Regions from separate parts of the Homo sapiens genome. Here region 2 is reported to be linked to region 1. The links are microRNA targets in miRTarBase. Many come from high-throughput screens and were not tested one by one. Region 1 holds a microRNA gene; the other region holds the end of a gene's coding sequence.
Evidence for each region. The annotated mature microRNA hsa-miR-3620-3p reads UCACCCUGCAUCCCGCACCCAG and lies in region 1 at 1,791-1,812, opposite strand. An mRNA with a match to its seed (bases 2 to 7 or 8) in the 3' UTR can be bound and repressed. Matches are read on the target gene's strand: a 7mer-m8 pairs with bases 2 to 8, a 7mer-A1 pairs with bases 2 to 7 and ends in A, and an 8mer does both.

Region 2: the mRNA of SYNPO is a reported target of hsa-miR-3620-3p. Seed matches in the 3' UTR shown: 7mer-m8 at 1,508-1,514 and 7mer-m8 at 1,003-1,009.

The regions. Positions count from the first base shown.
Region 1 is chr1:228,095,615-228,099,131 of GRCh38, reverse strand. It overlaps MIR3620 (microRNA 3620), which reads right to left and starts at 1,869; the gene lies at 1,791-1,869. ARF1 (ARF GTPase 1) reads right to left here. Exons shown (of 5, transcript NM_001658.4): 2 at 1,870-2,054; 3 at 1,680-1,790; 4 at 1,417-1,541; 5 at 1-1,280. The coding sequence starts at 2,017. The coding sequence ends at 1,119. RefSeq lists enhancers at 697-1,896, 983-1,952, 1,953-2,922.
Region 2 is chr5:150,656,786-150,659,785 of GRCh38, reverse strand. It overlaps SYNPO (synaptopodin), which reads right to left. Exons shown (of 3, transcript NM_007286.6): 3 at 579-3,000. The coding sequence ends at 2,699. Among named protein-coding and RNA genes, the nearest start is that of MYOZ3, 3.0 kb to the left of the region's middle. RefSeq lists a silencer at 2,985-3,000.

The sequences.
Region 1 (3,517 bases):
AAACAGTTGATTACTAATCGTGTATTGAAAGCAGTAAGAGGTTCCACGACACCAAATAGACCAGTTCTGAGGTTTCCCCAAGATAAATTTAACAGCTCCAGCTTCAGTGTTTATCAAAATACAAAAGAAAAAAGTAGAGGTTGTCTTTTTCGATGGCAAATCGGACCCTTGCAGGCTGAGGGAGAGAAAGCTACATCACACACAGAGGTGGGGTGCTCCCGAGGGGCTGTGGGTCTAGGTGGACCGCCTGCCCGGCTTGCACGCGCTCCTGCTGGTGAGGCCCCAGACATCCTGCCAAAGTGTCTGAGCGAGCACGAGTGTTGGGGACGACGGACCCACTCTGGCCACACGGCGACCGAGGGACAGATGGGGCCCTGCGTCCCATAGGCTGCCTGAAGGTGGGTAGGGCGGCCTGCGGCATAGTGGGGTGGCTGTGGGCTCCCAGCCTGGCCCCTGGGAACCGTGGGAGCACAGGGACAAGCACATGGCTATGGAATGCAGGGTGACCCAAGGACAAGCGAGTTGCGGGGATCTCTACTGTGACCATGCAGAATTGATCGCAGTCTGCTGCGCCACCACCACCTCATGTTCCCGAGGGGAACAGCTGGGCTGGCGACTGGCATCCAGGCCGTAACTGCAAATCTATGCTAGGCGGGGTCTCCCTTCTGTGTGTTCAAGTGTTCTCGACTTGGATTCTTAACTATTTTAAAAAATGCACTGAGTTTGGGTTAAAAACCAACCACCAAAATGGATTTCAACACAGCTCTAAAGCCAAGGGCGTGGCCGGCTCTCCCAACACAGCGACTCCTGGAGGCCAGGTGCCCATGGGCCTACATCCCCTCTCAGCACTGAACAGTGAGTTGATTTTTCTTTTTACAATAAAAAAAGCTGAGTAATATTGCATAGGAGTACCAGAAACTGCCTCATTGGAAACAAAAACTATTTACATTAAATAAAAAGCCTGGCCGCAGGCTGCGTCTGCCACATTTACAGCACGGTGCGATGCACACGGTGACCAAACCACGGAGGCAGCTTCTGGCACTCACACCACGAGCCGCACGTTTGCCACATGAGAGTAAAGCAGAGGGCAAGAGGAGTGAGAGGGAGGGGGGTCGCGTTCACTTCTGGTTCCGGAGCTGATTGGACAGCCAGTCCAGTCCTTCATAGAGCCCGTCGCCGCTGGTGGCGCAGGTGGCCTGAATGTACCAGTTCCTGTGGCGTAGTGAGTGCAGCCCCAGCTTGTCTGTGATCTCGGCCGCATTCATGGCGTTGGGGAGGTCCTGGGGGAAGGAAGGGTTGGTGGGAAGGGCTGTCCACAGGACAGAGAAAGGGGCCCCACCAGCCTCCAGTAACCCCTACCACCAGGCGGAACCCACACTGGCTCCTCACATTCCCCAGGCTGGCCCGGGCGCCTACCTGCTTGTTGGCGAACACCAGGAGGACAGCATCCCGGAGCTCGTCCTCGGCCAGCATCCTCATGAGCTCCTCACGGGCCTCGTTCACACGCTCTCTGTCATTGCTGTCCACCACGAAGATCAGGCCTGCCGGGCAGCCAGTGTCAAATGGTCATGGGAACACAGCCCCCCTGCCGCATCTATGGGCATCGATGCCCCATCTATGGGCTGGCCCCCCCTCTCTAGAAGCAGGAGTGCCCATGGGACCAGGCCCCAGCCACTTACCTTGTGTGTTCTGGAAGTAGTGGCGCCACAGGGGCCGGATCTTGTCCTGGCCACCCACGTCCCACACAGTGAAGCTGATGTTCTTGTACTCCACGGTTTCCACGTTGAAGCCTGGGTGCGGGATGCAGGGTGAGGCCTTGTACCTTGGCCCAGCCCAGCCCAGCCCACTCCCTGCTGGCCCCCACCTCACCTATGGTGGGAATGGTGGTCACGATCTCACCCAGCTTAAGCTTGTAGAGGATCGTGGTCTTCCCTGCAGCATCCAGGCCCACCATGAGGATGCGCATTTCTTTTTTGCCAAAAAGGCCCTTGAAGAGGTTGGCGAAGATGTTCCCCATGCTTGTGGACAGGTGGAAGGACACTGGCCAGGGACACCTGGAGAGACAAGGTGCTCCATGTCTGGTTCTGTGCTGCCCAGCAGTGGTTGCTCAGAACCCACCCACCCAGGGATGCACCACTGCCTCACCCCACCTCCTGGAAGCCTGCAGGGAAACAGGGAAAGAGCCCTGCCTCCCATGCCCCCCAAATCCACCTCAGGATGGGGGCTGAGGGAAAATGGCTGAGTCAGGAATTGAGAAACTGTTGCCCTCATCTTGGGAAGCTGTCCCCACAGCTGCATGGCCAGAAAGGCTGCCTCATCCCAGCCTATGCAGGAGGGGAGGCTGGCTGCCTGAGGACTGGCTTCCAGGTGCGTGCAAGGCTCCTCTACACCCCAACACAGAACCTTCCAGGGCCAGAGAGCACCACTCACTGTGCCTGCCCACACTCACAAGGACCAGAGCACACAGGGCCACGCCAGACTCAGCAGGACACCTTCAGGGACACACTCCCATGAGGACACAGCCTCGATGGGGCACGCCCGCCATGTCTGCCCCACACCGCAAGGGTAGGGGTTCCCTCAGCAGAACACAAATATCGGGGACAGCAATTAAGTCAGCTGGCACCCACCATCAGAGCCCTGCGGAGACTCCAGCAGGAAGGGCCTCCACTGCCCAGACGCCTCTGTGAGGACACTGAAGTTGTTAGGCTTTGGCCTCACTGGCCAGTGGGCAATTTCACGAATCAGGTGATTTTATCCCGAACAGGGACTTTAGAAAACACTGGTCACTTTCTGAAACAATGACTGCTTCTTCACTGCACCCGCAAGCGGGGCTTACCCCGAGTGAGGAAGGCTTCTGCCTTCAAGAGGACATGCCAGGAGCCTGTGAGCACACCCACCCCTCATCAGACCTCCTCCACCAGGGGTTCCACACACAGGTGGCTTTTGGCTGAATCACAGCCATGACTGTCCGCTGGTGACTCTCTCATCCAGTCACCCCAGCACGCTACGGCAAGGAAATGCCTCTTCTCCATTTCTCAACATCAGCAAGAGCCCACACATGCCTGTGTGTTTCAGTGGGTGTGAACTGGCCGCCCGTGTCTGATTTAACACTGCCATCATCCCAGATGAGCCACAGAACCCCTTCAAGCTGGATCAGTGTCCTTTGGACACTTTGCTCTTGGTTTTGAACATGTCACCTATTCTGAAATTTAAATGAGTTCTGAAATTTATAAGGACCTTCACTGTAGTGTTCCCTTTTTGGGGACGGCCAGGTTTTCTAAGCCCAGAGGAAGACCACCACCCATGGAGCACAGAAGAGACTGAATACCTGCCCTCTCAGTCCACTCCTGCAACCACTACCAATGAAGACACCAAAATGACACACACGCCTTGAAGGGCAGAGAGAAAAGGGAGGAAGACCTTGGATGTGATGATTGACCAGGCAGAGAAAACTGGACCGCCTGGGACCCAAGGGATGAAGCTGGGACTGCCTAGGGCAGCAATGTCCAATCTTGGC
Region 2 (3,000 bases), not on the chromosome of region 1:
GTGTTCCCAGGGCAAGCTTAGCCTCACCTGGGAGCAGGATCACAATCCCCTTCTCTGGCCAAAGGACACTCCTGCCAGGAGAGGATGCCTCATGGCCCGAGTCCTTGCCTCACTGGGGCTGCCTGGCTCAGACGGGACCTCTTACAGTGGCGCCTTTCCTGCCCTGGCACCCCCACCTGCCATGAGGAAACAGCCTCAGAGCACAGAGCCCTGACCCAGCTTGGCCCTGCCCACTCTGGTGATAGTGCTCTGTGGTCAGGGCCTGGACAATACCACCCTGAGACATTACCTAGACCCACTCTCCCCATTATACGGATGGGGAAGCTGAGGCCTAGAGAAGGAGTGGGCTCACCCAGGGTCACCCCGCTCGTCCATGACAGGACCAGGACTGCAGTCCAGGTACTTCTATGGCCTCAAGTTGTCCGTTGTTCCCATCTCTCCCCATGGCTGCTTCTTCCCAAGCTCCCATCCCATATGTCTCAAATATTCCCAGCCACCCAGAGTCCCATGGACTGCTCCATGCTTGGGGAGAAGGGAAGGACATCAGACACAGCTGAAAATGACACAGGAGGCAGAAGAATGCAGGAAGCATTTATTGAGGGCCAGAGCTGCATTCTACAAGAGGCAAGAGGCAGGACACAGGCAATCTCTAGTGGGTTAGAGGAGAGGTTGGGGAGAGGGCAGTGACAATGAGAGAACAGCCAGGCGCTGGCTTGGGAACTGCCGGTTTCTCAAGGCTGCCTCCTGCTAGTCCTCTGGGAAATGCAGGTAGAAATGGATCCTCTATGCTACTGCCTCAGCCAGAGGCCTGATGGTGTCCCTTCCCTGGGAGGGGCCCTTAGCCCCAGTCTCCTGTGCTACAAGGGACCCAGCAGCAGGTAGGGGCTTTGGTAAATATAGTCACTCATCATTAACTGAGTAAGAGCACCTTCTCATCTTCACAGCAGCAGGAGCATTCCTGAGGCCCAAGGAGCCCTCTAAGGTCACTCTTTCATTCCAAAGCACCCTGTCCCAACCCTATCTTCCATACTGACCTTAACTCCCTCCAGCCTCACTTGGGGGTTCCAGATCTAACATCACCCCGGTAAGTCCCAAACCCAAACTGTCCCTCACCTTTAGCAACATCCTGGTATCCTTTCACCTACATACGTTTGATCCTCAGCCAATTCCATACCCCCAGCTGATCCTGAAGCTAATATTCTGAACCTCTAGAAGGCTCTACCAGCCAACTCTGGAAACTACAGAACTCAGCCATATTCCTCCCTGAGTCCCCCCTGGGGACCTGAATCACAGCCACCAAGGTTTAGGGAACCAGTGAGGGCCTGCAGCCAGGCTCCCCCAGGTCACTGGGCACCAGGCACTAGCTAGGTCAGAGTGCACTGGGGAAGGGATGGGGCAGGATAATGTCTACTTTTCTGGGCACGATATGGACACTGGGACTGAGGTCTGACACTGAAGAAGGGGACATTTCCAAGGGGACCAGAAATACAGGCAGACCCTAACTTAACACCCTGCTCACGTACCCAAGCTCATCGGCCCCTAAATTCAAGCCCAACTAGCCCACCACCACCACCCACCCCCGACTTCCTAATATCATGGAATGCATTTCAAGACTGGAAGAGCCCTCAGGGGTCATCTGAGCCAATCCTGTCCCCTGCTAGAATCTCCTCTATGCATCCTGGCCATGCTTTTCATATTTCCCGTAACAAGTAACTCTTTGTCTCTCTCTTTCCCAATAAGCAACCCCAAACTGAGGGCAATCAGGTAAAGTCACATGGTAGCTCTGTATCTCTTCTCTCCCCAGTTCAGCTTTGAGCCCAGAACCTGCCATGAATGGGCCCAGAAGGAACAGATGAGCTGGAGGCCCAAGTCCTGGGCCTAAGGGAAATCACTGCCTTATAATTCTCTTATGGCTGCAGATAAGATGTCCTGGACAGTCTGAACTGGGATGGAGAAAGTAGCATGACAGGGACCCGGGGAGAATTTTCCTGCCTCTTCCCTCCAGAGGGGATAGTGGGACACCTTGAGCTGGCCTGGGAGACCTCTCTAAAGGTCATTGTGATAAAAATAGAGCTTGTCTGGGAAGGGATGGAAAACAGCTGCTCCTGCCTGGGACTTGGTGCCAGGGAGCCGGATGGTCAGGCCAGTGCCTGGACATGCGACACAGGCCTAGGACCTTCTGAACACACCCCGCTTGCCAGACTCCAGACAGCAGAGCCAGGAGGGGAGGGACGAGTATGGAACCCTGAAGGTAGCAAGTCCAGGGGTCCATATACACACTGCCCCGCCTCATCCAAGGCACTAACTAGTGTGTGTGTGTGTGTGTGTGTGTGTGTGTGTGTGTGTGTGTGTGAGAGAGAGAGAGAGAGAAAGAGAGAGTGTGTGTGCATCGGTGTGTGTACTGATGGGAAGGGGAATTTTGACGTTTGTGGATTGCCTTGGCCAAAGCCACCATTAAACAGATGGGAAAGCTGAGGGTCAAACAAGGAAGGGTCTTACCCAGGGTCACACAACAGCTGAATGAGAGCAAGGGCTAGAACTCAAGCTTGCGTCCCTAACCCATCCCCAACCCCAGAGCTCTCCTCTGCTGACCCCTCATCTCTGGGGCTGCCCAAAGAGGCCAGACCCTTTGGGTCCCCCAGGTCTAATGAGCCTTCTTCTGGCTCTGCCCTCCCGGGGTGGGGTCGGGGGTGGGGCTCTAGGTGGTGCAGGAGGCCTCGGCGGGGAGGCTGCCACGCTTGAGCCGAAGGCTGCCATTCCACCCGCGGGGACAGATATTGTAGCCCAGGATGCCTGGAGACTTAGCCCCGGAGTCCTCGGAGTCGAGGGACACGTCGGAGTCCGTGGGCGAGCGGCGGTAGAGGAAGGGCCTGGGAGGCGCGGGCAGCGGGCTCCGGGGACTGGTGCAGGACGAAGGACCGGCGGGCAACGGGCTCCGCGGGATGGGCGCGAAGGCTGCCCCCGGCACAGCAGCCGAGCCGGGGCGGGCGGGCTGTGGCG